4 linked regions of the Homo sapiens genome follow. The protein of the gene in region 4 interacts with the protein of the main gene of each other region in a pairwise test. Each region holds a gene or a part of one and is shown on either strand. Other genes may lie near its edges. The genes, in order: GOLM1, SLC7A1, SLC26A1 and ST6GAL2.

Region 1 (7,020 bases), on a different chromosome or scaffold from region 4:
CCCAGCTACTTGGGAAGCTGAAGTGGGAGGATCACTTGAGCCCAGGAAGTTGGGGAAGCTGAGGTGGGAGGATCACTTGAGCCCAGGAGTTGAGGCTGGGATCACACCACTAGGCAGCTATTTCAGCCTGGGTGACAGAGTGAGTGTGTCAGCCTGAGCAACAGAGTGAGACCCTGTCTCAAGAAAAAAAAAAAAGGAAAGAAAAGAAATGCAGTGGTGGAGCCCAGGTATTGATATTTTAAAAAGTGTCAGGCTGGGCACGGTGGCTCATGCCTGTAATCCCAGCACTTTGGGAGGCCGAGGCGGGCGGATCACAAGGTCAGGAGATCAAGACCATCCTGGCTAATGGGGGAACTTCGTCTCTACTAAAACTACAAAAAATTAGCCAGGTGTGGTGGCAGGTGCCTGTAGTCCCAGCTACTCGGGAGGCTGAGGCAGGAGAATGGCATGAACCTGGGAGGCGGAGCTTGCAGTGAACCTAGATCACGCCACTGCACTCCAGCCTGGGCAACAGAGAGAGACTCCATCTCAAAAAAAAAAAAAAAAAAAAAGTGTCCCAGGTGATGCTGATGCCCCTTGAGTGTTGAGGACCACTGGAACAGAAGGACCCAGATGTTAGAAAATGTTATCCCTTTCCTTTGGAGTAGGATGAGGGGGATGTAATTTATCCTTTTTTCTTTTTTTTTTTTAATCAGAGTCTCGCTCTGTCGCCCAGGCTGGAGTGCAGTGGTGTCATCTTGGCTCACTGCAAGCTCCGCCTCATGGGTTCAAGCTTTTCTCCTGTCTCAGCCTCTTGAGTAGCTGGGACTACAGGCATGTGCCACCATGCCTGGCTGCTTTTGTATTTTTAGTAGAGATGGAGTTTCACCACGTTGGCCAGGCTGGTCTCAAATTCCTGACTTCAGGCCATCTACCTGCCTTGGCCTCCCAAAGTGCTGGGATTACAGGCATGAGCCACTGCACCCGACCAATTTATACTCTACTGTGTGTAGTTTCCTATTTTTTCCTTAGCAAAAGCCATTTGGAAAAGTCCCTGCCACCCCCTCTTGTATTTGTACTTTTATATTTTAAAAACAAGGTTAGCTGGGCACGGTGGCTCATGCCTATATTCCCAGCACTTTGGGAGAACGAGGCAGACGGATCACCTGAGGTTGGGAGTTCCAGACCAGCCTGACCAACATGGAGAAACCCCGTCTCTACTAAAAATACAAAATTAGCTGGCCGTGGTGGTGCATGCCTGTAATCCCAGCTACTCGGGAAGCTGAGGCAGGAGAATCGCTTTAACCCGGGAGGCAGAGGTTGTAGTGAGCTGAGATCACACCATTGCACTCCAGCCTGGAAAACAAGAGCGAAACTCCGTCTCAAAAAAAAAAAAAAAAAAATCATTGAGGCTGGGTGCACTGGCTCATACCTGTAATCCCAGTACTTTGAGGGGCCCAGATGGGAGGATCACTTGAGGTCAGGAATTTGAGGCCAACCTAGGCAATAGTGAGACCCTGTCTGTACAAAAATTGTTTTAAAAAATTAGCTGGGCATGGTGGCCCATGTCTGTAGTCCCAGCTACTTGAGAGGTTGAGGGCAGGAGGATTATTTGAGCCCAAGAGTTTGAGGCTTCAGTGAGCCACAATTGCGTGACTGACTCCACCCTGGGCGACAGAGACCCTGTCTCTAAAATAAATAAACAAAAATTTTAAAAAGTTTAAGAGTCAAAAAAGAGACTCTTGTGATCAAGAGTCTCTTGAGTATATTCAGTGCTTGCTGATATCAGCTGATAATTGAAAGAAAAACGTGGTTTCCCCTTTCATCCTGAGAGGCCAGAAGCTGGTAAGACATGAGCACAGGTCAGAATTTCCACCCGTGGGAATTCTGGGGGTGCTTTATTTTAGATGATTCGGCTAGATTGCTTCTTTATCCCCTGGCAGGCCCCCATACTAGTAGCTAGCTGTTAAGAAAAAAGAAGCCTTTTGGTGACCCACCTGAAAAGACCATAGGGTGAGGATCAGTTCTCCCATGTTCTCACTGGTGAGAATTGGGTTTTGCAGGTGAATCCTTGGTGGTATCCTCTTCCTTACCCGTCCCTTGTCTTTTTTGCCCACCATCCCCTTTCCTCCTCTGTTGCTAGACACCCCTGGTGTAAAAGGCTCTCTGTGCTCAAAGGCTGTTTGTTGCAGTGCAGCCACGCTCACTCTGATAAGGTTCTGTTTTATCTGGCTTGGGAAAAGCCATTTGGAAAAGTCTACTTTCCTTGTTCCTAGAGACCAGTGCTTGCATCCAGGCAGACCTGGCTTTGAATTGAAGCCCATTAACAAAATTTATGGCATCTTTCTTCTAAGCTGTATTTTTGTGCACTCTGTAGCTCTCACACAGAGGCACTGTTTTTCCTAACATGAGGTGTACAATGCAGCAGTTGCACAGATACGGTCCCTAAAGTGAGAAATGAATGTTCGAAAGAAGGTGCTCTCGTTTGGCATGGAGTGAATGCCTTGTTTCCACCTCAAATCCTAAGATGGAACACATTTTTCCTGGTGACTTCAGGCAGATGGCACACCTCCCACTTCCGTTGTGTGTCATGAAGGAGGAGACACTTCTATAGCCAGGGCTGTGCCTGAATAATGATGTACATGGGGGGGAGTTCACATTCACCTCCAGAATGGGTTTCCTGCTTTGCTTGAGAAATGCTTTAATTGGGTGTCATTAGTAATCCTGTCAAGGGTAAAAAAAACCTCCCTTGTTAGGAATCAAAGCAAAAAGCTCTCTCTGAGGAGTAATGAGGAATATACTCTTTCTAATATGATGCGGAAGCACTTAATATTTGTTATTGGTGTTTACAGAAATGATTACTTCTCAAACATTGCTGCTTACAGAAATGATTAATTCTCAAACTATGCCGGGAAGGTGAGTATGGTAATGATTTTACAAGGGAGGAATCTGAAGTGTAAGAGGAATCATGTCTTGCCCCAGGTCTCGAGCTAATCTGTGGCAGGTTTCGGGGCGGTGCCTGCTCCTCCGAGCCTGTCCTGGGAACTGGCCACACTGCCCTGGGTTCACAGCACCATGGGCTCTGTGCGTGCCGTTCACATACTCTTCTCCCTTGACAGCTTTGCACGTCAAGGAGAAGCTACCAGCCCACGCTTCTTGGCAAGACTCCTTTCCTCTTGGTTGTAAGGATGATACGGTCTGCTTCGGAGATGATAAAACTAGTATTGATGTTTATTTATTTGCTTTTACTTGGCAGATTCTCAGCGCTGATTTTGAGATGATGGGCTTGGGAAACGGGCGTCGCAGCATGAAGTCGCCGCCCCTCGTGCTGGCCGCCCTGGTGGCCTGCATCATCGTCTTGGGCTTCAACTACTGGATTGCGAGCTCCCGGAGCGTGGACCTCCAGGTGTTTTGTTTTCTTTATTGTTATGTTTATTTTATGTTTATGTTTTGTTTATTTTGTTATGATGGGGTCCCAGGGGTTTGTTGTTTATTGCCAGCCAGGGCGTTTTGTGCAGGGCACACGCTTGTAAGGTGAGTTTAGGGCTCTGCACACCCCCACAGCCCTGGGCCAGACCCCAAGCAGCTTTGGGTGGGAGAGGTCCCCTCTGTGGTTGTGTAGGATTGCGGTTGTGGTATCCCTCCCTGCCTTTCCTGTGAGTTAACAGCATTCATTTGAGCTACTGGGGTGGTTCTGGGAAGACAGCTTGCTTACATACACTGGCCATAGTCCGTTGTTTGCGGTCCTCCGGCGCCCAAGATATCGAAGAGTAGTATTGGAAGTGTGCTTGGATGATGGGTGTAAGAAATATGTTTTTAAAGGTACCAATCTTTATCTTCATTACTTAATGATAATAATAATTTTAACTTCCTCATTTACCGGTGCAGTCATGGGTCAGGTGCAGTGCTGAGCAGTGACAAAGATGCTCCTCTTGATTGAACTTGAGTCGGGCCCTTCTGAGCCGTCTTCTTGACTAGGCCTTGATCTTGGCACCTCCCAACTCTCACTGCCTGTCTTTGGCCTGCCCAGCCCAGTCCTAGCAAAGGATCCCGCTAAGCCATCCTTCTACCCCTGATCCTTGACCAAGTTCCTCATCCCTACCCTTGCTGTCTAAGTCCTTGGCCTGTGTTTAGCAAGAATCTTGTTAGGCCAGTTTAGCAAGAATCCCCCTACTCTGGGGGCGATTTCCATCCACTGACTCCCCGCACTGTGCTCGTTGGCTATAAATCCCTAGCTGTCTTTGATGTGTTCGGCATTGAGCACAATTTCCCTCTCCTATTGCAATCGTTTTGAATAGTCTTTCTTACCATTTTAATGAATGTCAGAATAATTTCTCTTTCACAGTACTTTATACAAATTATCTCCTTTTGTGCACAAACCCTACAAGGCTGGGACTTGACTTTCCTCATTTCACAGGGGGTCAGACTGAGGCACCAAGAGGTTGAGGTGGAGCAGGGATTCCAACCTGCATGGGCTTAGCCGTGGCACCCCAGCACGTCTGTGCTCTGTCCTGTTCTCACACTTACCCTCCTGGGCTTGTACTCCCTGTGTCTCAGCTTCCACGGGAGTTCCTGTTCTCTGGGCAGATGAGGTCTGCTTGTCTGGAGTTGGAGAACTGAATCTGTTTTCAGAAATTGTATCTGCTAAAGAGTTGTTAAGTGCTTTGTTAGCAGCGAAGAAGAACTAAATATTTGAGCATCATCTTATGCCAGGTAAAGCATGAGGCATTCTGTGCACTTAGCACATTTAAGCCTCACAAAAACCCAGTGGGAAGTGTGGTGTGAGTGCACAGAGCCTTCCTTCACTTACACTGACAGAGACCATTTTTTCCAGAAGAAACCGCTCCAGCTTCTGTCCAGTTGACTTAAAACACAGCCTTGGGCACTTGTGTGTATAAGACTGGTGCTGGCCCTGGGCCCCAAGGTGGTCTTTGTGGAGGGCGCTCAGGTGGTCCAGGCTCCTCAGGTAACTTGGCATCAGCCCTAATGCCACGGTCTCCTTGTAGACACGGATCATGGAGCTGGAAGGCAGGGTCCGCAGGGCGGCTGCAGAGAGAGGCGCCGTGGAGCTGAAGAAGAACGAGTTCCAGGGAGAGCTGGAGAAGCAGCGGGAGCAGCTTGACAAAATCCAGTCCAGCCACAACTTCCAGCTGGAGAGCGTCAACAAGCTGTACCAGGACGAAAAGGCAAGGCCTGCTTTGTTTCCTCTCAGTTCTTTTCTAAGGGATGGTGTCTACATTGTCTGTTTCTTCTTGGCGGGAGGATGAGCAAGCGGCTGGGTTTAGATTTATGTAATTATGTGGAAAGAGCCTATTGATCAAGCTTTGGGCATTCTCTCCCTTTCCCCTCCAAGTCCCTGGCTGGGCTTGCGGTGAAGCCTTTTGCAGTGGTAATAAACAGGAGAAATGCAGAAGAACAATTTCAGATTCATCCTCCTATTGGCTTTTTTTTTTCTCCTATTGGGTTTTTTCTTCCCACTTTCCACAAACATGTATTAAATACCTACTCTGTGCCAGGCCTATGCCAGGTGCTTATATCTCAGAGAAAAATAATATTTGTGCCCTCCAAGTATCTAATGGAGGAGAGGAGAGGCAGACTCTACTAAATACTAACAGAGAAAGTAGGGGACTGCACCCTTGCTTTTAAGCTAGGAAAAAAACCAACAAATCCTGCGTAGATTTAAAGGGGCCTTCCTGCTAATTAAAATATCTAAGCTTTATGTGTCTTTTTTTTTTTTTTTGAGATGGAGTTTGGCTCTGTCGCCCAGGCTGGAGTGCAATGGTGCAATCTTGGCTCACTCTGCCTCCCGGGTTCAAGCGATTCTCCTGCCTCAGCCTCCTGAGTAGCTGCGATTACAGGTGCCTGCCACCACGCCCAGCTAATTTTTATATTTTTAGTAGAGATGGGGTTTTCACCATTTTGGCCAGGATGGTTTCGATCTCTTGACCTCGTGATCCACCTGCCTCAGCCTCCCAGAGTGCTAGGATTACAGGCATGAGCCACCGTGCCCGGCCTGGTTTTCTTATGTAGGAATATATGACTATACTTTCTTTATTAAATTGTGTAACTGTGTGAGTTACTAATATCTCCTGTCCCAGAGTGCATCAAACTTTGGCCTCTATTATTAACTAGAAAAATTTGGCTTTTTTTTTTTTTTTTTTTTTTTTTTTTTTTTTGAGATGGGGTTTCCCTCTTGTTGTCCAGGCTGGAGTGCAATGGCGCCCTCTTGGCTCACTGCAACCTCTGCTTCCCGGGTTCAAGCAATTCTCCTGCCTCAGCCTCCCAAGTAGCTGGGACTACAGGCATGTGCCACCACGCCCAGCTAATTTTTTGTATTTTTTAGTAGTGATGGGATTTCGCCATGTTGGTCAGGTTGGTCTCGAACTCCTGACCTCAGGTGATGTACCCGTCTTGGCCTCCCAAAGTGCTGAGATTACAGGCATGAGCCACCGCACCTGGCCTGAAAAATTTGGCTTTTATAATGCGTGTACCTCTCTCTCTGGAGTGGCTAATTTATTGGAAGAATGTTGTAGCTCAACTTCCATTATCTTGAATTGTCTCAGAAAATGAATTATTTCCAGGAAGGGACTCAGACTTTTCTCGCATAACTGATTTAAAATTCAAGAAGTACTTTTTTTGTTGTTTAATTTGCAGAGTACTTTCCTATATTTGCAAGCTCATATTTCTTCTCTGGGAATTGTGCATAATGTTGTTGTAATAAAGTGCTTCTTTATGTTTCTTCCCTTTTCTTACTGGTGAGATATGCTTTTTGTGCTCCTGAAATCCCCTTTAACCTCATCTCTCAAAAAGAAAAAGAAAAAAAAGAGCATCAAGTAGTTATTTGAAAAGAGAATCTGTTTCCACAGTTTTTCTCTTTTAGAATATGCGATATAAATGTCTTTTCATTTTGGTGAGCAAGGGTGGGTTCTCACATCAAACCTTAGCTGCAGGAGGATTTTAGCTGTGGTTTGGTGGTAGGAGGCATGGAACTTGTGAGTCAGGCAGACCCGGGTTTAAAGTTCCCTCAGCTGTGTGATTTTA
Region 2 (6,795 bases), on a different chromosome or scaffold from region 4:
GTGCAAAAATGGATCCTTTCTCAAGGGAGTTGAGGGAGTGAGATAGTAACAATTACCAGGATAGCTACACTCCCCGACAGCCCCTCCGCCCTGCATGCACTCTGCTCCCTCTAACAGGATAGTGTATGTGCAGGCCAGCACAGACTGGGGCGGCAACAGGTGAGGGCGTTTTGTTGCCAGAGACCAAGTCCTTCAGCAAATGCCTGACAACTGGCAGCCTCTGAGCTGCTTTATCCCAACAGCTTGGTTGGAAGGAAGACCTCTGTGGCCCCAAAGCCAAATAAATCTGCAGACAGTATCAGAGATCCAAAATGGGGGCTCAAGGGATTCTCTGGTTGAGGCTCAAATTGTTGGAATAAGGATTTTCCCCAAATGGCTACAGGAAAGTGAGAAGATAGGACTAAAGTCACGGGCTGTGGGGAAGCAGAGCGGGATCTGGAACTCTCCATGGGGCACTTCCAGGCCTGGGTCCCAGGAGAGACCCACTAGGATTCTTGAGATCACACCATGCACATGGAAGCCATAGAATTTATTCGAATTTGCAGAAGCATGAGATAATGTACCACAAAAGAGTTTGATTTTACAACATAAAGTATGGTAGGAAGTGGTCAATGTACACAGTGTTGTCAGCAAAAAGGGGAGGCAGGGCAGTTTCACATTTTTTGAAAGGTGGTGGACGACAACTACACTTGTCCTTAAAGTAAAATAAAAGCAGGAGAGACCCAGCAGAGACCAACCTGATTTGCAGTTAGCATCAGAATCTAAATCTAGTATCACAACTTTAAGAAACTAAAAGAAAACTATTAGAAAAATAGAACATCAAACAAGCAAAAAAATATACAAATGTACATAATAAAAAACACACAACTCTTAATAATGGCTCCATGTTCAGTAGAAGAAAATATTTACTGGAGAAACCACAGCTATTCAGGTTTGATAATAAACCAACCCTCATTGGTATCATTACCCTTAGTGCTCCTTAAACTCATTGAAGCTGAAAGGCACAACTTAAGCAGGAAACTTATCATCTTAAATATATATTATAACTTCTCAAATGGGAAAATAAGTCCCAAACTTAATAGTCTGTCATCAAGAAACACAAAATCATTTGCCTTGTTAATAAATTAACAGTCTGAGTGCATCTTTCCATCCTGCTTCCTGACCCTGCTGGACACACTAATAAATACCCTGAGAAAATCTTCTCTTTAAGCTTGGCCAAGGTACTCCATCTCCTGTGGGGTTTTCAGCTGGCACTCAGCACATTTGTAGAATGACCCAGGAGGGCTCCATGGCAACTGTGCCCCGAGACTCCAGGCCCAGCCGGGTCCCGATGGCGAGAGCGTTGTGGCTCAGTGAAGCACTGGCACAGAAAGGCTGGACTCGAGGAATCGAGGGGTGAAGATGGAGTCGGCTGACATTTTTTGCCTTAAAAATACATTAGGAGTCATAAGCGTGATGACACATGGAGTGTAGCTTCTTGCACCACTGGATCAACAGTAATCAATTTCATGACTCGGATAAGGTCCCCAGGAGCCTGGCAGAATGTACATCTCCCTCTCCCTTCAGAGCCTTACATATAATCTTCTCATGACGATGGCAAACAGATATATTTTAAATTACACGTAACAATTATACATAGTGTATATCCAGATCCGTCTGCAGGCGAACTCTGCATCAGTTCCACATATAAGCCTCACGCCCCCACCACCCTGCAATTTCCCCGTCCTCGGAACTGTCTCACGAGACCACCAGCGCACAGACACGAACATGCCTCTCACACACCCCAGAACGCAGCTGTGCTGGAGTTGGGCACAAAGGCCCCTCACTCCCTGTCTTCATGGTGTGGGTTCTTGGCTGCCAACAGAACTGTCAGCCTTTATTAAGAAGGAAGGGTCTGTGTAAAAATGGGATGTGTGAATCAGAAGAGGGGCCCTGGCACAGAGCCAGGCAGGCTTGCTTTAGCATTGAGTCCTGCGTCGCGCAATGCCCAGGACCTTGCCTGTTAAGTCTGGGTGGGGCCCCTATGGGGCATGTCCACGTGCCCCCCACCAGACTCATTGCCCTGTCTCCAGTCTCCACTGTGGGTTGGGCTGGAGGCCATGCCACGTGGGACTGCAAACACCAGCCAGTTCACAATGCCTGCTCCGTGGCAGGGGCACGGCAGGGAGGAGCTGGTATCATCAGCGTTTCCACCCATCTGAACAAAGGTGAGCGGGCCATGCACCCTTCCAGCTGTGCACAGGGATGTGCTGAAGGTGCAGGAGGCAGTGCGTCAGGGCCTTGGTGGCTGGGGTAGGTGGAGAAGCCCGCTGCCCCCACCATCCTGCGGTCACCCCTGGACTCGTATTGGATCCTGGCCACTGTGCTAGAGTCAGCACAAGGGACCAGGTGGCTGGCTGCCTGAGAGAGAAAATAAGTCACAGTGGAAAGAGTTTTTACTGCTGCAAAAACCAAAAGTGGGGGGAGATCTCAGCAATTCTGACAACAGTATACATTTAGCGACCTTTCTGAGACAGCCTGGGGAAAATGCATCTATCACTGTCCTCTTGATTTGGAAAAATAAATCCGATGCATAAAGCCTTGGACAAGGGTGTGTGAGCAGGGATGATAAGTAGAGTGGGGGGTGTGTAGAGGCCTGGTCTCCTCCGGACGGTGCCCCTCCCAACTGCAGAGCTGCCCTCCTGTAAGCCGGCTCCCGAGCCAGCTGCCAACAAGGCCCCCACTGCCTCCCTGGAGACCCACTTCATCCCCCTCTTCAGCAGAGGTCCTGAGGCAGGGGGGTGGAGATCTGCTGGGTTTGCTGCTTCATGAATTTGGGCCTTCGGAGGTCATGAACACATGCAGGGCAGTCACAGGGGTTGTGGGAGACAGGAAGGGATGTTTACCCATCACAAATGGGTCTTTCCAATGTGGGTATTTGTGGCTGGTGCACAGATAAAAGTAGACACAATACTCCTTGGTGGGTGTGCCTCTAGTAATGTGTAAGTTCTGACTATGTAGGAAAATCCTGGCCAGTGGAACTAAGAATATTCTTGTTTGGGCAAGGGAACTAAGAGATGTGAAACTATCATTTTTTTTTTGCTTGTGTGTATTTTTATTTCAGGGAAAGAAATGAGGGATATGATAAGAAAAAGTCTATTAAAATTGTAAGGCTTACTCCAGACACCATTGCTTAAATCACTCCCCTCTCACACAGAGAGAAAACCCCTGGCAAGTGCACAAAAACACTACTCATAAAAGCACGGTGACCAGTGAACTATTATGCAAGGCACCCCCACGTGTCCTTTCCTAACCAGGAAGCCCGTCCTCTAAGGAGGGGGCATGGGTCCCATCCCTGCCCAGCCTAGGCGTGCTTCTGTGTCCAGCTTTAAGGCCTCTGCGTGAGGAAGGCCACAGACTCCCAGCTGTCAGCACGCTGTCATGATGAGACTTGGAGCAGGGGAGACGCACCTTCTCAATCTACAAAATGAGCCATGGCGCCCATTAAAATGTCAAATGTCAACTCTAAATAGTCTATTGGGTGCTGTCTTGCACGGAAATCTCAGCCAGAAAGAAAAACTAGAGAAAAGAAAAAAAAGAAAAAAGCAATTCTCTCCCACCACTTCACTTTTCTTGGAGACTGTCTATCCCTCGAATTCTCTTTGCCTATGTAGAAAATAACGGAAAAAAAAATCAAGCAAATAACTACCAGGTCCTAAGACAAGAGACAACCAAAACCCCAACAAAATAAGTTAGTATTTATCAAAATATGTTACAACACCAATCTCCATAAATGTCAATATCACTCTTTGGAAATCGGAGCTCTGGGCTCTTATGATGCTCCCTCTGGAACATTCAAAATGAGATCAGAATAAAGCTCCCAGCAAGGTGAGCAGGCCTGATACGGAGGCTCAGCCCATGGCCATCCACCCGCCCTCCACCGCCGTGTTCACAAATTCTTGCACTTCTCTCCAAGAACCTTCTGGGGGCACAGGGAGGGTACAAGTGCCCTCAATTTATCAGGCTTCTTTCTACCAGATTTGTGTCAAAGGCCAGACTAGGAAGAAATGGAAAGGAAACTAAGTTTTGAAAGCAGCATTTCCATTTCCCCTGGTGTCCAAAATGCCCACATCCCTCCTCCTCCCCCATCAGCATGGGCCTTCTGTCTCCTGAAGTAGACTCAGTGGAACGCTCCACCCACGTTCAGGTTTCCTCTGGCTCCCATCTACAAGGAGTGTGTGTGAAATGGTGCTGGCCGCAGGCCCCGACCCAGGCAAGACGGGGGTGGCGTGCACTGGAGCTATGGGGGTGGGGAGGATGCTCGGGTCTCTCCCACTTGCAGAGGCGTGGGGTCCGAAGCATCCGGATGACAGATACACAAAAGGGACAGCAATATGCCTAGAAATCACCTCCCCTGCGACCCACGCATCTCAGCTATAGGACAGCCGCAGGGGTGATGACATGGCCATTTCCAAGTTAATGTTATGCCCTAACTTAATCTGGTGGAGTGTCACAATTTCATGGACTGTGGATTGATTTCAATTTCATCATGTCACAGAGAGGCCAGACAGCTTATGTCAGGGCCAGAAACGCATGACCCCGACATGTCCTGACCCCAGACTGAGCTGCCACCAGCCTTGAGAACCTTACAGGAGCCACCAGACTGGCTCCAAAGCATGGGAGGGCAAGACTGAGTGAACGGTGGCGACTCACAGGAAACAGACTTCTGACTCGGCCACCATGGGGCCAGTCCTGCAGATACTGTCTCATGTTCCAGTTACTCAGGACACAGCCAGTCGGGGGAGACGGCAGGAGCAGCAAGAACTGGCCCAGGCCTGGAGGCCGTGAGCTGAAGGTCCCTGGTTTACATGCATGTGCACACACATGCATAAGCAAAGCAGGCCCTAATGGGAGTGATCCCTTCTTCCTCATTTGAGTGGAGCCAGCTGCCCTCAGCCCCGGGCAGCTGTCATGGTGTCAGAGCAAAGCCCTGAGAAGCCAAGGGGCAGGCAGGGTCCGGCCCTAATGACCCATCTGAATGCAACCGGAGAAGGACAACAGGCCTGATTTTCCTTTTTAAGTGCACTACTGTCATTTGGCTCTGGGGTGGGGAGCTGCTGGGGACACACTGTTTTGTGGTACTCATCTGGCTTGATTGCTGGGTGTCTGGGGCTGAGCGGGAAGATGGCTGCGAAAGTTTGGAGTATGCACAATTTCAATCCCAGAACAGTCCCCGGGAGGAAGGCCTGGTTCCCAAGATAAGGAGAGAAGGTGACCTCCGTTCTGCCTGAGGCTGCGGCAGCTCGGGGCTGAGCTGGTAGGGGAGGAACTGCTTTGTTCAGAGAAGTGAGGAGACACAGTGGCCAGCCGCAGCCTAGTGGCCCCGGCCAGGCAGCTGTCTGGAGGTGACCAGGGCCCGGAGAACCGGCTGCAGAGCCGAGGGTGGGCTGGGGCTGCAGGTCAAGTAATTGCACCTTTGGCTGCAGTGAGGGTGTGGACGCAGGTGGTTTCTGTTGCACTGGTGGGGAGGGTGGGGTGCCTCCCGGTCCTCTGGGGGCGTCCCTCGGGGCTGCTGCCACCTCCGGGGGGCGGGGCTGTGCGTCACTTGCACTGGTCCAAGTTGCCGTCAGGAGTCCTTGCTTGGTCGGCATCCAGGGACGCCTCCTCGCTGTGCCACAGGCCATAGCCAAAGTAGATGATGAAGCCTGCGGGCCGACAGCAGAGACGGGCGTGAACAGACCGCCGGTTGCACCACCGCAGGCAGGGCTCAGAGCCCAGGGCGGTCCCACAGCAAACCCTCTCAGGCGGCCTGCCCCTGCCTGGCATGAGCCCGCAGCCAGCGGCCCCTGTGACCTTTCCACATCTGGAGCAGCTGCCACACGAAGGCCACTGTCTGCTTCGACATCTGGCAAAGCCCTACGTTCCTCTGGACGGCCTTATGCTGCGGTGTTTCCTGAGCAGACAGAGCAGCTGGGCCAGGGCCACCAGAGGCCATCGGGTCCTTCAGCTTAGCCCCCTGATGCCCCCGGAGGCCACGAGAGTATCGAGAATGTGCACTATGGAGATGGGGTTTCCCGCAGGTGCTGGAGGTCTCCAGGCTCTCAGCCTGGACAGTCCCACTGCCCATTTCTCCACATAACTGAGCGTCAGACTGCAGGAGACACTGAGCCCCAGGAATGGACTTCACATAGGAGTCCACAGCCTGTTCCTGCACACGGGACTCCAGGGTGGGTCCAGGACCTATGCTTCTTACCACCTGCCCAGGGGCTGGGGCCACCTTGTGTGGCTGACACAGGAAAACAGGCCTTAAAGCAAGGACTCAGCCACCCACAGCCCAGGAAAGGAGCTCAGGCTCCTGCACACAGGGACTTTGACAGGGATGCTGGGAAGAGGCGCCCCTCTGCCTTCACCAGGCCTGGAGGAAGTGGCCAGTGAGCTGTGAGCAGCTTTTTCTCAGAAAGGCTCTAGGAGACGTCTGTCTAACAGGCTGGACTTTGCAGGGAATGAGGACCCACCCGGCTGCCAGCAGACAGTGGGCCGCAAAGTATTTCCTGGAGGAAAAGCACCCCTCGAGGGCCCTGGGAGATGAGGCAGCAGCCATCTGCCCGTAGCATGCAAACTCAGGGCTGCGAGGCTGTAGGGACATGGTCCTGAGGGGCAATGGCCAGGGCCACTTTCCTGGCTATCAGCACTATGACTCAGATGCTGAGGGGAAGGAAATGAGATCCTCCCCTCCAGCCCCTGGGGTGAGATGCCCAGAGGCGTGGGACTACAGGCTGCACCCACCCCTGGTGATCTATCTCATGTGGAAGCTCC
Region 3 (7,818 bases), on a different chromosome or scaffold from region 4:
CACCTGCTCCTGTACCCCGGGCTGGGTGTCCAGCAGGAGCAGCAGGAGTCCCTGGGGTCCACCCCACCCGGCCCCTACCACCTCTCCTCCCCTCCATCCAAAGGACACACTGGTAGCAAAGAAGTATAACTTAAGAGGCACTTGGATAAGAATTAAATGCCCAGAAGGTGCATTCCAAAGTCCCACGGAGTTGGAGTAGCGGGGCACGGTGACCTGGAGGAAAGTGAAGACCCAGCTGGGCTTCAGGTTTTCTCTGCAGAACCCCAAGGCGATAGCCCGGCAGCCCCTGACCCTAGCGGGGGGAGCCCCAGCATCAGAGATGTCCCTGGCCTGACACCCAAGGCGCCTCTGAGTGTCATCTGGCAGGGCCAGCCTCGCAGCGAGGGGAGCCCGGGACAGGGATCCCCGCCCCCAGGCCCAGGAACCCCGGGGTCAGTCCACAGGCCCGAGGGCCCACCCTCCGCCTGGCCCCCATTGGGAGGGGCCTTGAGAGACCGACGCTGGGGAGGGGACTGGGCCGGCGAGATGGAGCGCGCAGCCCACCCCCAGGGCCGGAGACGCAGACGAGCCACCGCCCAGCCCGGGAACGGAAGCCGCGGGGGCGCGTCAGCCCTTGTAGACCCCGCGCGGGGTGTCGCTGGGGCCGCGGCGGCCGCACAACGGGCTCATTCACCGCGCGGCCGCGGCTGAGCGGCCGCCCGGGTCCCCACGTCCCCGCCCCTGGGCCCGAGCGCGTGAGCCGCTAAGACCGCGCGGCTGCCGGGCCTGGTGAGTGCGCGGGGCGGGGCCGCGCGTGCATGGGGGTTCGCAGGCGGTGGGGGGAGACCGCGCGGGGTGGGGAGCAGGGCCGCGCTCTCCTGAGGGTGGGGGTGGGAGTGCGGGGCAGGGGCGGAGGCCGGGCCCGCTGGGCTGGGGGCGCGGGGCGGGTACAGACCCGCCTCTTGGGAGAACCTGCATCTGTGGCCGGGACGAAGGGGACACAGGTGCTAGAGGGTGCGGGCCGGGGCCTCCTCTTCTCCAGACCTCGGAGCTCGCCCACCCGCGGGAGGGTCTCTGGGAATAAACTCGGGTCCGGTCTCAAAGCCCTGTCGGCCGGGCTTCTTCCCACGGGTGGGAGGCAAGGATGCAAGGTCTCCTTTCCCAGTAAATGGACTCCAATGTAAAACGGCTGATTTAAAGACAAAACTAAGGAAGTAAGCGTGTGACACAAGACTGGCCAGGGGTTCAGGCGGGAGGGGGGTTCAGGAGGGAGGCGGATTCAGGCAGGTCCCAGTTGCTGGGGCCCCCACGCCCCCTGTCCTGCGTGGGCCAAGCGGGGAAGGAAGGAGGTGTTGGCAGCCCTGCGCGTGCACAGGCTCGGGGTAGAATGGGCTACCCACTCTCTCTGGCCAGCAAGGCCCCTGGACCCCCTGGGCACTCAGCCTCTGGGCCTGGCCACAGGACAGCACCAGCCACTGCCTCAATGCTCAGAGAAACTGAGGCAGAGACACGTGGGAGGGGGCAGGTCAGGCCCCAAGGATCCTGCAGTGATGACCTCACCTACTTTAGACACCCAGCCTAGGTGGGGACTAAAAGGGCATAAGGCCCAATGCCTGCAGAAGACCTGAGGCCAGGCCCCTGCAGTGCGGCTGAGGCTGTTCCTGAACTACGCTCACCTGCCTAAAACCTCACCACAGGTCCCCATAAGCCAGCCTCTGGAAACCTCCACCACCTTTCCTGAGGGGGGAAGGGCCACCTCCCACTCCAGGTTTTTCTGTGGCCCCAGGTGGCACTGCCCACCCCACCCTGCATGCAGGCGTCTGCACCAGGTGCCCCACCCCTGCTGTAGCACCCAGGTCCTCCCTGCCTCCTTTAGGGAGACCTTGAGGGAACAACCCCAGCCCCCTGGGTCTCCCCAGTTCTCCAACAACCCTGCTGGTGGCTGCACCCAGAGGGGCCCTTATCTGTCCCAGGGAGGGACCTGAGGCCCTGCGTGACTGCCTTACCCCACCCACTGGCCAACCGCTTCTTACAGCACAGCTCCCAACTGCTGAGCAAACAGCTGCTTCCCAGGGACCACTGGGGCCCAGGTTGGGCTGGGGTGGAAGCAAGGGCTCAGACTCTGGAGGACAGGGCAGGGGCTTCGAGGAGAAATCAGACTTGGAGAGGGCATCCCAGGTGGAGGCTATGGGGGTATGAGACCCTGGAGCCTGTTCAGCTCTGCCCGAATCTCACACTCAGGGGTACGAGACCCCAGAGCGTTCAGCCCTGCCCGCATCTCACACTCTGGGGTACGAGACCCTGGAGCATTCAGCCCTGTCCACATCTCACACTTAGGATGTCTCCTACTCTCTGGCCATCCCAACTACATTCCACTCCCATTTCACCTCCAAATGGGGGCACTGCAGCCCAGTCTTCCCTGGGCTCACCCAGGGCTGTGGGGAACTAGCAGCGCTTGGCAGACGGCTTCCACAAGGAGGTACCTTTGGTGGGGTGAGTGTCCAGGGTCTCCTCCCTCCGGGGCTGTGCCCCATCAATGTCAGTGTCCTCGTCTTGGGGAAATGGAGCCCCGGCACATCAGCTGGTTCTGCGAGACCCTCGGCTTCAATCCCACATGGACAGGAGAAGTAGAGCCTGTGGCTTCTGTTCCCCGGACAGAGTCAGGCTGCCCAAGGTGCCAGGGCCGGGTTGGCCTTCCAGCCCCACCCGAGGGACCCACCGCAGCCTCCTGGCCTCCCTTGGGATGGGAGAGCACTGAGGGCTGCAGCCCCTCGTTACACTCACCCTCCGGCCACAGGTGCCCCGTGCAGGCTCCCACCCAGTACTCACTGTCAAAGTCGGGGGGACCTGAGGCTCCCAAGGAATTTTTTTTTTTTTTTTGAGACAGAACTGGCCGGGCACGGTGGCTCACGCCTGTAATCCCAGCACTTTGGGAGGCCGAGGCGGGTGGATCACAAGGTCAGGAGTTCAAGACTAGCCTGACCAACATAGTGAAACCCTGTCTCTACTAAAAATACAAAAATTAGCCGGGCGTGGTGGCACACGCCTGTAGTCCCAACTACTCAGGCGGCTGAGGCAGGAGAATCGCTTGAACCCGGGAGGCAGAGGCTGCAGTGAGCCGAGATTGTGCCACTGCACTCCAGCCTGGGCAACAGAGCGAGACTCCATCTCAAAAAAAAAAAAAAAAGACTTGTAGGCTGGAGTGAAGCGCTACAAACATACCTCACTGCAGCCTGGACCTCCAGGGCTCAAGCAATCCTCCTACCTTAGCTTCCCAAAGTGCTGGGCCAATGACAGCGTTTGTTTTTGAGACGGGCTCTTGCTCTGTGGCCTAGGATAGGGTGCAGTGGCCTAATCATACCTCATGGCAGCCTCAAACTCCTGGGCTCAAGCCATGCTCCCACCTGAGCCGCTTGAGTAGCTGGGATACAGGCACACACCACCACACCCAGCTAATTTTTTACTTTTAATTTTTTAAAGGTTGGGGGGCAGGGGGCGGCCGGGTGCAGTGGCTCAAGCCTGTAATCCCAGCACTTTGGGAGGCCGAGGTGGGTGGATCACGAGGTCAGGAGATCAAGACCATCCTGGCTAACATGGTGAAACCCCGTCTCTACTAAAAATACAAAAAATTAGCCGGGCGTGGTGGCGGGTGCCTGTAGTCCCAGCTACTCGGGAGGCTGAGGCAGGAGAATCACTTGAACCCGGGAGACAGAGCTTGCAGTGAGCCGAGATCATGCCACTGTACTCCAGCCTGGGCAACAGAGCGAAACTCCGTCTCAAAAAAAAAAAAATTAGCCGGGCGCGGTGGCGGGCGCCTGTAGTCCCAGCTACTCAGGAGGCTGAGGCAGGAGAATGGCGTGAACCCAGGAGGCAGAGCTTCCAGTGAGCCGAGATCACACCACTGCATTCCGGCCTGGGTGACAGAGCAAGACTCCGCCTCAAAAAAAAAAAAAGAAAAGGTGGGGGGCGTCTCACTATGTTGACCAGGCTGGTCTTGAACTGCTGGCCTTAAGCGATCCTCCTGTCTAGGCCTCCCAAAGTGTTGGAATTACAGGAGTGAACCATCGTGCCTGGCTAATAATTCCTTTTAAAAAGCAGCTTACCCTTATTTTCACGTGTGGGCCTAATTTAGTTCACTTAAAAAAATCATTTATCTTCACCCCAGCCCTATGAGGCAGGCACTGCCGGTCCTGGTCTGTGGTAGAGGGGAGGGCAGAGGAGCCGTGAGGGTGACCAGGCGCTGTGGGTCGGTGCTGGGTCCAGTCAGACCAGGACTCCTGGCCAGTCACGGCACCTTGACCCCGGCAGTCCTCGCCCTGGGCGGTGAGCACCACACACAGGGCTTACGCGAGCACACACGCATATGCACGCACCGGCAGCCTTGGGCTGAGCCGGCTGTCAGCCTCTGCCCTGCTCCAGCTTGGACCAGGCTGGCTCCTTGCAGGACCAGGAGGGTGTCCGGCGACTGGACACGGAGACCAAGCCTCCCTCAGCCCCGCCTGGGTTTGAAGGCTGCTGCACTCGACCCCAGACCCCAGAGCTGAAGGTTTACCTGTGCTCAGCCCCTGAGCCCCCGCCTCCCGCTGGTCCCTAAGCCCCCCCGGCAGGGCCGCAGAGCCACAGCTGCAGCGGCTCCTGGGAGGCTGGGAGCTCCTCAGAGGCCCACACAGCTCTAACTCCTACAAGCCCCTGATTACAGTTCAACTCCCGGATCAGCCGATCAGGTAACATGGCTGGAGAAACCCATGACTCAGCAATCTGTAGGTAAATAATTGAACTACAGAGTCCAGGGCACAGACCACTGCCTGCAGGTTGGCGCCACCACCCCCACTCTCCCCGCTGCTCGCGGGAGCCAGAGGGCCCTGCGGTCCTCGGTGGTCTTGCCAGCCCCTCGTCATCCCAGGGCCCTCCGCGCCTGTGAGGACTCCCTCAGGTAAGAACCATCCTGGGCCCAGATCTCAGCTGCAGCAGAGGGGGGCGTGGGAGCCGAGGCCAGAAATGCCCTGGACTCGTGGTTTCTTAGGGGCACCCTCAGGCTCAAGGCAGGTGGCCCTACTGTCCCCATTCCACACACCTGGACCCCAGGGGCTTGGGGTGGGCTTCAGGGCATCCAGGGACCCAGTGTGGTGGGGTCTTCCAGGGAAGGGGACACAACTCTTGCAATGTTGCCTGAGGGCCAGGACCCCCGCTCTGTGCCCCAGGGGTGCTGTGCCCAGCCTGCATGTGTCAACCTACCAGGCTGGGCTCACTGCCCCAACACACCCGCCAGGAGACTGGAGCTCGCACACCCTGGGCCAGCGTGCAAACAGCAGGCTCAGCCCAGGCTCCAGGGTGTCCTGGGCACCTGGTGTCCTGGGAGCAAAGTCTTTGCCTAACGTCGCTGAGAAGAATGTTTAAAGTGAAAGTACATTGGAGTCTGCAAACAGGACAGACCCGAGGCCTCACGTGGGACCAGTCAGGCCTCTAAGCACCGCCTCCCTAACGCCACGGTGTTTTCCGAGATCAAGGGAAAGGTCAGGTGCCCTTCCGGCTCTGCCGGCCCAGGGTGACTGTGTGCAGCGGGCTGGGCCCTCTCGGTGCTGCCTCGGGACAGTGTGTCATGGCCGTTCCACAGTGAGCTGGTGCAGCCTGGGAAAAAGGGCGCCTCACGTCCCAGAACTGTCTGGGCAGGGGAGACAGACGCCAGTCACCCTCCTCCCCTCCCAGCTGGCCCTGATGGGGCCCCCGTCCAGGCATATTCTCAGAATTCTGTCCCAAGTCCAGGCGGATGGGCTAGGCTAGTGTCTGAGTGCTGCTCCCCCAGCAGACTTGGGGTCCCAGTACCCACAAAGCTTGGCAGGGACATAGGAGGCCTCTTCCTGAGACTTCCGCCAGCCCCAGGACCCACAGGGCAGGTGACAGAGGGGTGGGTGGAGGTGTCTCCAGGAGAGCAGGCGATGGTTTGGATGGGGGAGGGAGGGCTCTGGTGTGGGCATGGGGTGGACAGCAGGACCGTTTGCCAACCTGGGGAGCCAGGGAGGTGGACACGGAGCAGCTGGACTCAGGCTTGCCTGCACCTGTGTCCAGTGACTGTGACATTCTGACGGTAGGCACATGTGCGTGGTGGCAGCCCAGCCTGTTCCTGCCCCGTTGGGGAGGTGAGCTTCAGGAGGCTACAGGGTGGTTTTCAGCCAGGAACCGCAGAGCCAATAGGCCGGAGCTGAGCCTGGACAGGGTGCCGCCACGCCGCCCCTCAGCACTGCTGGCCTCAGCACACCCCATGGCATGGGCTTGGTGTCGTAATCCCATCTCACCTCACGATGGATTCTGGATCCAGCAGGGCCCAGCGTCCATCCATACCGGGCAGGGGGCTGGGGCCCGCGCTGCCAGGAGAAGGCCCAGCACCAATCCCCGGCCCTGGGTGGGCGAGGGGTCCGCCCCAAGGGGCCCGTTGCTGCCGGGGACCTTGTCGTTTGGCCCTGGATCCGGGGGCTCCTGTGACCATGCCCTCTTCTCGGCCGCAGGTCGGCCACGGGACCTGACGCAACAGGATGGACGAGTCCCCTGAGCCTCTGCAGCAGGGCAGAGGGCCGGTGCCGGTCCGACGGCAGCGCCCAGCACCCCGGGGTCTGCGTGAGATGCTGAAGGCCAGGCTGTGGTGCAGCTGCTCGTGCAGTGTGCTGTGCGTCCGGGCGCTGGTGCAGGACCTGCTCCCCGCCACGCGCTGGCTGCGTCAGTACCGCCCGCGGGAGTACCTGGCAGGCGACGTCATGTCTGGGCTGGTCATCGGCATCATCCTGGTGCCGCAGGCCATCGCCTACTCATTGCTGGCCGGGCTGCAGCCCATCTACAGCCTCTATACGTCCTTCTTCGCCAACCTCATCTACTTCCTCATGGGCACCTCACGGCATGTCTCCGTGGGCATCTTCAGCCTGCTTTGCCTCATGGTGGGGCAGGTGGTGGACCGGGAGCTCCAGCTGGCCGGCTTTGACCCCTCCCAGGACGGCCTGCAGCCCGGAGCCAACAGCAGCACCCTCAACGGCTCGGCTGCCATGCTGGACTGCGGGCGTGACTGCTACGCCATCCGTGTCGCCACCGCCCTCACGCTGATGACCGGGCTTTACCAGGTGAGGAGCCCTGCTTGGGCACAGGGAGGGGCCCAGGGCACCCCCCCTTAGGTTTTGGCCATCCACGAGGGCAAGGCTGGGGGCAAGCACAGGGTTGGCAGAGGAGGTGCTGGCCCAAGACAGCAAGGCTTGGGCAGAGCTGGGGCGTGCCGGGGCATCCCAGGGCGAGGCACCGACGCGGAGAGGCTGTGGATGCAGGAGGGGAGGGGCACGGGGAGCCAGTCCGGTGGGCCATGGCCTTGGTGGGGACCAGCAGGCCAGGTGTGGCTGTGGCTCAGTGGTGCTGGACTGAGGCCATGTGGCCTCCCAGGCCTTCTGTCCTAGGTGGAGTGGGGGATGGCCTCCCCACCCCCGAAGGTCTCCTGCCTTGGCCTGTCCACCTTGGCCCCCGTTGGCTCCACATCTGCATGGGGGGCAGTGGGCACCATGTGTAGGAAGCAGCAGGAAGGGGTTGCCTTCTGATACCAGAGGTCTTAATTCTGAAATAAAACGGGCTGCTGCACGTGACAAGGGTTAGACGTGTCTATGGCCAGCTGTGTGCACGTGTGATGCTCACGTGGATGTCACAGTTGTCTGCGGGCATGAGCACGCGTGGAACCAGAACTCAGGCCCGTGTGAGGAGTCTGGTTTGGAACACACGGGGCCGCAACACAGAATTGTCAGGTCCTGTGCCGTGACCACCACCCCTCGGGCCATGCCAGGTGCTGGTGAGGGGCAGGTGGCTCCCGCCAGG
Region 4 (7,886 bases):
ATTGCTGATGAGGTTCTTTGGACTCAGAAAGTTCAAATAACATCACTAAAGGGACAAAGTCAGGACTAAAACCCAGAGATCCAACTTTCAGTTCTGTCTTTTTAATATTGGATAGTGGGCTGCAAGGAGAAGTTTAGGAAAGGATAGTTTCTTTCACATACTGACATGTTTTTCTATTGCTCTGTCTGGTACAGCTCATTGCCAGCTGAGGTCAGGTTGTGGCCCCAGGACCCCGCCTCTGAGGCCAGCCTCTATTTCCTGGACGGCAGCCCACAGACTAGCGCGGGTGTCAGCAAGCCTAAGGGTAACCAGTTGCATTTTGGTTTTATTGTTCCTACTGCAGATACTGAAAATGGCATCATTCCTATATCTGATGCTAAAAAATAATGTTTTTCTCTCCACCTGAAAACACTGACAGAAAGGTAGAAGAAGCTCCTGCTGGCCGAGGATTTTGTCTCCTATACATATGCAAATACCTGAAGCATTTTTTTTCTAATGGTGGTCTATTTCCTTATGAACATTTCCAAAGACAAAGGGAACTACTTTTTTAAAAAAATCTATGGGTTGGCTAGGAAACAAATGTTTCTACCTGATCTTGTCAGTGGATAATGGGTTCCAAAAAGCAAGAATCTGAAATTCTTTTTTTTTTAAATACTGATCGGCCACATGAAAATTCGTTTCACTGATTAAATAGGAGGAGCCCAGATATAGATTTTCCTTTCTGAGGTACTAATTTCTCAAGCAAGGGAAGAAATCAATGTGTTTTTGCAATGCTACAGATGGAAAATCTCAGGTAAATCAGAAAACGAAGGCAACTTGTTTAGAGAAAGTGGTCCTGAAAGTTTCTATCGGTGAGTTTTCCCATCTGTAAAATAATCTATAGTTTTATTGTGAAATTTGAGTGGCATAATGAATGGGAGAAAAATATATTTATATGAACAATAGGTAAGAGAAATAAAATAGCCCAGATTCACCAATGGTGGAGTTAGAAGATATTTATTCTTCATCCCTGTCCCACCTGAATGCTTCTCAGCTGAGTAACTGAGCTTCCTGATTTGGTTGATTGTTCATGATGTGCTTCAAGTTCCTGAAACAGGAAGGAATTGTCCCTGTGAAAGCTCAGCTGGTTAGTTAACACAGGGTGAGAAAAGGAGAATTGAGGAACCCTGAATTTAAAAAAAGAAAGAAAGGAAATTCATATTATTATGAGCAAATGGATAACAGCAAGTGGATTTCTGAATGCTGCCTATCTGTAGGAATAAGTTTATTGTGCTTTGTTGTTATTGATGATTTTGTAAGGAAAATAATATTATAGTGCCAGAGGTACTCAGGAATTCCTCATGAATCTACAGACCAATAAAATAATTAAATAATCTGCTCCTTGTGTCTCTGAGTAATTAAACTAAAGGGTGCCAAAATATTTTATTTACCATTACACTTTGACAGAAGCAATCATCAGCATATAGCTTCCTGTATATAAACTGGCTTTGTGGTTCCTTTGGGAAGCAATAGATTTAAGTCGGTTTAGTGACTGTGTATTTACTACCTTGATCATAAGTAATGAACTCAATCCACTTAAAGTTTTACAACAGTAATTTGCATATTTGCCTTAAGATGGTAGTTTTTCTACTTCTATAAAGTTGACTGTTATTTGGACACTTTTATTTAACTCATTAAAATTTCTTTAAGATATCAACTTTGGCAGTATTTACGCAGAAAGGATAGTAAGTGTATAAGATATATATACACTATAAAAAGTGTACAATTTTTTCTGTTTCAAGGTAAAGTGTTTTAATAATGGCCACTGTCATTTATTAATTACTACAATTTATTAGGTATAACATGTCAGGCACTGGGGGAGATGCTTTTAACACATGCTCTCTACTTACAACAAACCTTGAAGATAGATACTATATAATTTTTTTTTTTTTTTTTTTTTTGAGAGGGAGTCTCTCTCTGTCACCCAGGCTGGAGTGCAGTGGCACCAGCTTGGCTCACTGCAACCTCCGCCTCCCAGGTTCAAGCGATTCTCCTGCCTCAGCCTCTCGAGTAGCTGGGACTACTGGCGCTTGCCACCACGCCCGGTTCATTTTTGTATTTTTAGTAGAGACAGGTTTCAACATTATGGCCAGGCTGGTCTCGAACTCCTGACCTCGTGATCCGCCCGCCTCGGCCTCCCAAAGTACTGGGATTACAGGTGTGAGCCACCGCGCCAGGCTGAAGGTAGGTACTATTACATCCATTATACAGAAGAGAAACAGAAGCCCACAGACTTTGCAACCCCCTCTGCGCCCCTCTACTATTAAGAAGGTGAGTCTTTCTGCAGTATTTCCTTTCTCTATCCCCACCAGCTATGGGTCTCTATCAGGTTGTTTGTTTCTGTTTTGTTTTGGTCACTTTTAACCACACTGTATGTATTTCACATTTATAAAATATAATTTTTCTTTTTTTTTTTTTTTTTTTTTTTTTTTTTTTTGAGACGGAGTCTCGCTCTGTCGCCCAGGCCGGACTGCGGACTGCAGTGGCGCAATCTCGGCTCACTGCAAGCTCCGCTTCCCGGGTTCACGCCATTCTCCTGCCTCAGCCTCCCGAGTAGCTGGGACTACAGGCGCCTGCCACCGCGCCCGGCTAATTTTTTGTATTTTTAGTAGAGACGGGGTTTCACCTTGTTAGCCAGGATGGTCTCGATCTCCTGACCTCATGATCCACCCGCCTCGGCCTCCCAAAGTGCTGGGATTACAGGCGTGAGCCACCGCGCCCGGCCATAATTTTTCTTTTTTTAAAAAATATCTGTGTAACACATTGTTCATTCAGGCAGTTCCGCAGAATTCCATGTGTCAGACATAATTAATACAATTGGGGAAATACTGAGTAAGCGTTTTCGGCCCACACTTTTGTTTGAACACAGTGCATTATACCCACTCGATTTTAGTTTAATTCCCGTGCTGTTTTACATTTCTGTAAACTCTTTGAGGGAGTTCTGGGCGCCCACTGTCTAGCTCAGAGTTCCAGGCTAAGGTAGGCACTAATGAATGCTGAATGAATTGGGTAGCCAGTTAATTGCTTTTTCCCCCCTAAAAAAAAAGTCTAAATTACTTGAATAAAAGTATTTGCGGATTTTTAAATAATACATTTAATGGCAGATCTCTGTCTCCAAAACGTGTGTCCTTCTAGCGACTGAGGGTGTGGGGTGGGGTGAGGGGTGACTAACCAGTCCCCCTGAGATGGGCCCAACCTTAGCAATATTATCCATCTACCTGGGATTCCCCTACACCTGAACAGCTCTTTGGGTCCGCGAGAGAACCAGCGGGGTGGGGCACCCAATGCCAGGAGTGCGCGCGGAGAGACACGCTGAAGTTCACAGGAGAGTATTTACCAGCAAACAAAGGGCGGCGCGGTTTGGGGTCCTAGGACCAGCTGCCGCCGTCTCGAGAAAACGCAAGGGCCGCGGTGACAAGTGGACATTCCGCACGCGACCAGACCGACACTCGATGGGCACCTCCCCGCGGCCCCGCCCGCAGGCTCCAGCTGCCCAGCTCGCAGCCGCCCACTGGCTCCGGAGGCTGCTTCAACCACTTGTCCCGCCGGCTTCTACCCCAAGAACTTTCCGTCCCTCTTGGGGTTGGGGACCGGCAGTGTGGAGGGGCGGGCAGGTGGGGGTCTCCAGGGAGCACCGTCACCGGACTTGGCGAGCTACCCTTCCCAAATGAAAGGTGGCCCGCTCCCAAGTCCATCCCATATCCTTAGAGAAGCTCTGGGAGCGAGGGCCAGGCGGCAGTGCGGAGCCTGGTTGAGCGAGATGAACAAAGGGAGCTAGCGAGCCGGGGAGGATGCTGCGCTCCCCTGCGCCCCACCCAGCCGGCTGCCAGGCGCTGCCAGGCGCGCAGGTAGCCCGGCCTTCCGCGCTGGCGGGGGGAGGTGTTGGACAGGGTACACAAAGACTCACTTCCGCCGGGGCAGGCGCCGGGACTCCCTCCTGGCCGCCCACAGCCTGTGCGCATTCCTGCATTCCTGCCGCCGCCCGGGACCCGAGTGCCCCGGAGGTGTCCAGGCGCGGTGCCAGGCGGGTACTGTGCAGGTAACCTTCGGAAGAACTAGGGCTGGATGGAGGCGGCGGCCGGGGAGAAACACGCCTTTTTAGGCAGCCGTGCTGCCCCGCACCGCCCCACGCAGCCCAAGTCTGCAGTCACTCTCCGCGACAAGCAGAAATCCGCGCGCAGCCAGGGAGCGCCCCGCCTGCGCTCGCCGGCGGGCCGAGCTGCCGGGCCGGGGGCGCGGGGAGGGGGCAGCCCAACTTCCCAGTGCCCGGCTCCCGCCAGCTAGGTGAGCCTGGAGCGGGAAGGATGAAAGGGATCGCGGAGAGGGAGGGGGCTCTGGGGCGAGCGGAGCTCGGGGGCGGGGCGCGGCGCAGCCTCGGTGCGTGGGCCGGGAACCGCCGCCTCTCCCCGGGGCTCGGGGCCGCGGTTCCTCTGGCCGCGGGAGCCGCCGCCGCGCTGCCCGAAACAATGAGGCGTGCAGCGCGGGGCTGAGCGTAGCCTCCCGCCGGCTTTGAGGCCGAGCCACCCGCTGTGCCCCGCCGCCCGCGCTTGCAGCTGCCGCCGGCGCGGAGCAGCGCTGGCCCCGGAGAGGTGATCCCGCAGGCCGCCTGGGACGGGAGCGCGGGGCAGCTCCGAGACCCCACGGTGGCAGGAGGAGGACTCGAGCCTGCGGCAGGACGACTCCCGCCGCGCACTCGCCTTCTGCAGCCCCCAAGTTCCGCGGCGTGAGTCGGGGACCCCGGCCAGGGTCCCAGCTCTAGCGGGCGCCAGCGTGAGTGTGGGAGCGCGTAGCGCGCGCACCCGAGCGGCTGCCGGGGAATAAAATGTGACACGCACGCCTTGGACTCCAGTGCCGCGCTGCCAGGGGGAGCACCGAGCACCACGGTGTCGTGCGCTTCGAGGCGCGGCGTGGGAAGAAGGCTGGTAAGGGAGGGCACTGGGTAAGGGTTGGCGACGCCTTTCTTGGTGGCGCTGCAGCCTCCGCGCTGCTGTGCGCGGAGTTACACTCCGTGTTTAGGAGCGAGACCCGTGTGTGGGGAATGTTGAAGGTGGTTTGGGGAAAAGCAGGAAATTCTGGAGAAGCGAACGGGAGGACGGCTTGCGCTTTGGGGACGGGCGGATACAGTTGTGCCCCTGTGGCTCAGTAAAGGTGATCTTTTATTTTGGCTCTTTTGGCTCTGGAAGGGAGTGAAGATTTTTGTCTTTCTTCAGCCAACCCCCGTACAAAACTGCACTTCTTAAAGGTTAAAGTGTGTTCTGTTCATTTCTGGTTCTCTGTGGCTATAATGTTTGGGGTAGTAGGGATCTTTAGAATCCTAAATACCCGAGTGTTAATTCTTATGTAGTTGGCAGGCGGCAAACTCCGCTTTTGGGTTTACTTTCCGCGGTGTTACGGAGTGGATATTTGATGCATTCTTTTGAGTAGGGAGTGTGACGTCCATCTCATTCGGATTTGCCGGTTCTGTGTTGGGGGACTGAGTGAAGTTAAACTCAATGGCTCCCGCAAGTGCTGCCTTCCAAAGAGCTGAATAGCTGTGTTTGGAGAAGCTGTGCTTTCCAGGAATTTAAATGAGACTTTTTGTGATTGCCTTCCAGGTCTCTCCTCCTAGTACCATATTTGTTTTGTCAGGCTGAACTTTCAAAGCTGTTTTGTAATCTGAGAAGCACTTTTGGGGGGAAAGTAATGCTTGGCTGGATTTTTGTGAACTTATTTTTATTGGACATGCGAAAAATTTGGCGAGAGGCAAACCATATTTGGTTGAAATCATTGTCTTTTGCACCACTGCCGTTCTGACCATAAAGGGGCATGCTGACCCTCCTCGCCGAGGACTGCCTGCTTGGGTGAGGGGGGTCTTTGGTGGGCTGGAAGCACATTTTGTATTTAGAGAACTTTCTGCACACTTGAAAAACCCCATGCTGGTTACTTTGATGCTTCCCTTTTTTGAAATTCTGATCAACATTTTTTGCCAACTTGAAATATAATTTATGACCAAGGAAGAATTCCAATAAAGTGAAGTGCTATATATATATGATGTATATGTATATACATACACATATGTATATATGTGTGTGTGTGTATGTATATATATATATATATATATATATATATGCGCTGCAAATTTAGGGTTAAAACTTTTTTTAAAAGGAAAACTGATGTGTGGCCTTGAACCTGTTTTTACCCACTCTCCTTCCCCCATTATTTTTCTGGAACTGACAACCAAAATTTTTATATACCACTTGAGGAATTTTGTACTAATGCATTAAAAGAAACTGTTGGCAAAGGTGAATGGATATTGTGCTCAAAACTGATGAAAGTCTAAAATAATAGGTGAAGTGCCTTGAATTTTACTGCAAAGTTAAAAAGGCACTCTATCCAATTTTTGCCGCAATAGATACAAATGGTAGCATCTTACATTTTTGCTTGGTGCTGTGAAAGCTTCTGGAGTTTTGAGTTAAATGTCTTGTAGAGATTGTGATAGGAGTCACTGCTTTATATGGAGTACTGAGCTCCACAGTTTAGAGAGGCTTTGGATGGATACTCCTGGAAAGAGTGAGGTCAGAGCAAGGACCAACATTTGGTGAGTTTGCTATGTGGTGCACAGGATCTAGGAAGCAAGGATACAAAATTCAGGATTTTTAGACTAGAGGATTCAAAGTTGAGACAATTTAACATTTGAAAATATGTGAATGATTTATTATGCAGAAGAGGGCAGTTATCTGTGTTGAGTTTCTGATGAGGATAATTAAGAGGGAAAAGGTTTACTCTGTGGGGTGAAGACATAAGTTGAGTCTAGGGAGTTGTGGCCAATCCAGCCAGCAAAGATTAAATAGCGAAGGGACTGCTGAAAAAATTCCTGTACGTGCTTGTTTCTGGAGGTTCCACCCCCCCACCCCCGAGTTTCTCTTCTTTCTGAGATGATTTCAGTGTGTGAGGCTCTGGTCTATTGCTTATACTGATACTGACTGAAATTTTACCCTCCAGGTTTAGAATTTATCCAAGCATTTCTCAAATGATTAAATCTTTTCTGAAAGACAAACTGATTTCTAGGCTTCTGCCACTCCTTCTTAGGTAAATAAATGATAGGTTCCTTTCCAAAAACTTGGAGATATTTGTCCTCTGGGAAGCTCTTAATTAGTTTGCAGATTGCTACCTCATGGGTGAGACTTTGAATAAAAATATCTTATGCATGATAATAAGGACAGTCTTTGTTAATGCATTTGCTCTTTAAATGTATTGTGTTATTCCTGATTGATTGAGTTTTTTCTTTTCCTGGATTTTCTGTAATATGATCTTAAAATTTAATTGCTTAAATTAAATTAAGTACTTAATTCAGCATGCATAAATGTCTAAGGGAATCAGATAGTACCCTCATGGCAGGTGTATGTTAAGCTTTGATTTTCTAAGCATTGAAATCTGAAATCTCATCCCTTAAAAAAAATGGGATGAAATTCCCAAATGACTATAAAAGTAACAATTGCATATAATTATATACTAATTTTGGAAAGTGGAAGGGAAACACAGATGCATATTTGCACAGAAATTTTCAATGTTCTTACACCAATTTTTGATATCAATGCCAAACACTGAATGGGCTGTAGATGACCAGCCACTGTTAGTGGATTACCACATTTTCAGTTTAATATACCTACCATTTTTCCGAAAGCTCTCCTTCCAACTTTTGAGAAATTTCTTTCTAAATGTTATTAAGTACACAATGCGAAGATATCAGTGTTAGAGAAACACGGATTTATTATGCCCCTTACAAAATTTGAAATTTACCCTTGCTTGGTCCCAGCCACCTCCCACCCCTCCCATTGAATTGATAGGGGAACAGTTGCAATTCAAAA

Evidence for each region.
Region 1: the proteins of ST6GAL2 (region 4) and GOLM1 interact in binary tests that used the Homo sapiens proteins (3 or more experiments, as listed by UniProt).
Region 2: the proteins of ST6GAL2 (region 4) and SLC7A1 interact in binary tests that used the Homo sapiens proteins (3 or more experiments, as listed by UniProt).
Region 3: the proteins of ST6GAL2 (region 4) and SLC26A1 interact in binary tests that used the Homo sapiens proteins (3 or more experiments, as listed by UniProt).

The regions. Positions count from the first base shown.
Region 1 is NC_000009.12:86,075,557-86,082,576, reverse strand, and holds part of GOLM1 (Golgi membrane protein 1), read left to right. Parts: intron 1-3,235; 5' UTR 3,236-3,256; coding exon 3,257-3,385; intron 3,386-4,985; coding exon 4,986-5,165; intron 5,166-7,020.
Region 2 is NC_000013.11:29,508,900-29,515,694, forward strand, and holds the end of SLC7A1 (high affinity cationic amino acid transporter 1), read right to left. Parts: intron 5,685-6,795; coding exon 5,581-5,684; 3' UTR 515-5,580; downstream 1-514. UniProt on the Homo sapiens protein: High-affinity, low capacity permease involved in the transport of the cationic amino acids (arginine, lysine and ornithine) in non-hepatic tissues.
Region 3 is NC_000004.12:990,395-998,212, reverse strand, and holds the start of SLC26A1 (sulfate anion transporter 1), read left to right. Parts: upstream 1-4,808; 5' UTR 4,809-4,912; intron 4,913-5,277; exon of another isoform or gene 5,278-5,492; intron 5,493-6,482; 5' UTR 6,483-6,509; coding exon 6,510-7,085; intron 7,086-7,818. UniProt on the Homo sapiens protein: Sodium-independent sulfate anion transporter. Can transport other anions including bicarbonate, thiosulfate and oxalate by mediating sulfate-thiosulfate, sulfate-hydrogencarbonate and sulfate-oxalate anion exchange.
Region 4 is NC_000002.12:106,883,168-106,891,053, reverse strand, and holds the start of ST6GAL2 (beta-galactoside alpha-2,6-sialyltransferase 2), read left to right. Parts: upstream 1-4,886; 5' UTR 4,887-4,961; exon of another isoform or gene 4,962-5,187; intron 5,188-5,817; exon of another isoform or gene 5,818-5,879; intron 5,880-7,886. UniProt on the Homo sapiens protein: Transfers sialic acid from the donor of substrate CMP-sialic acid to galactose containing acceptor substrates.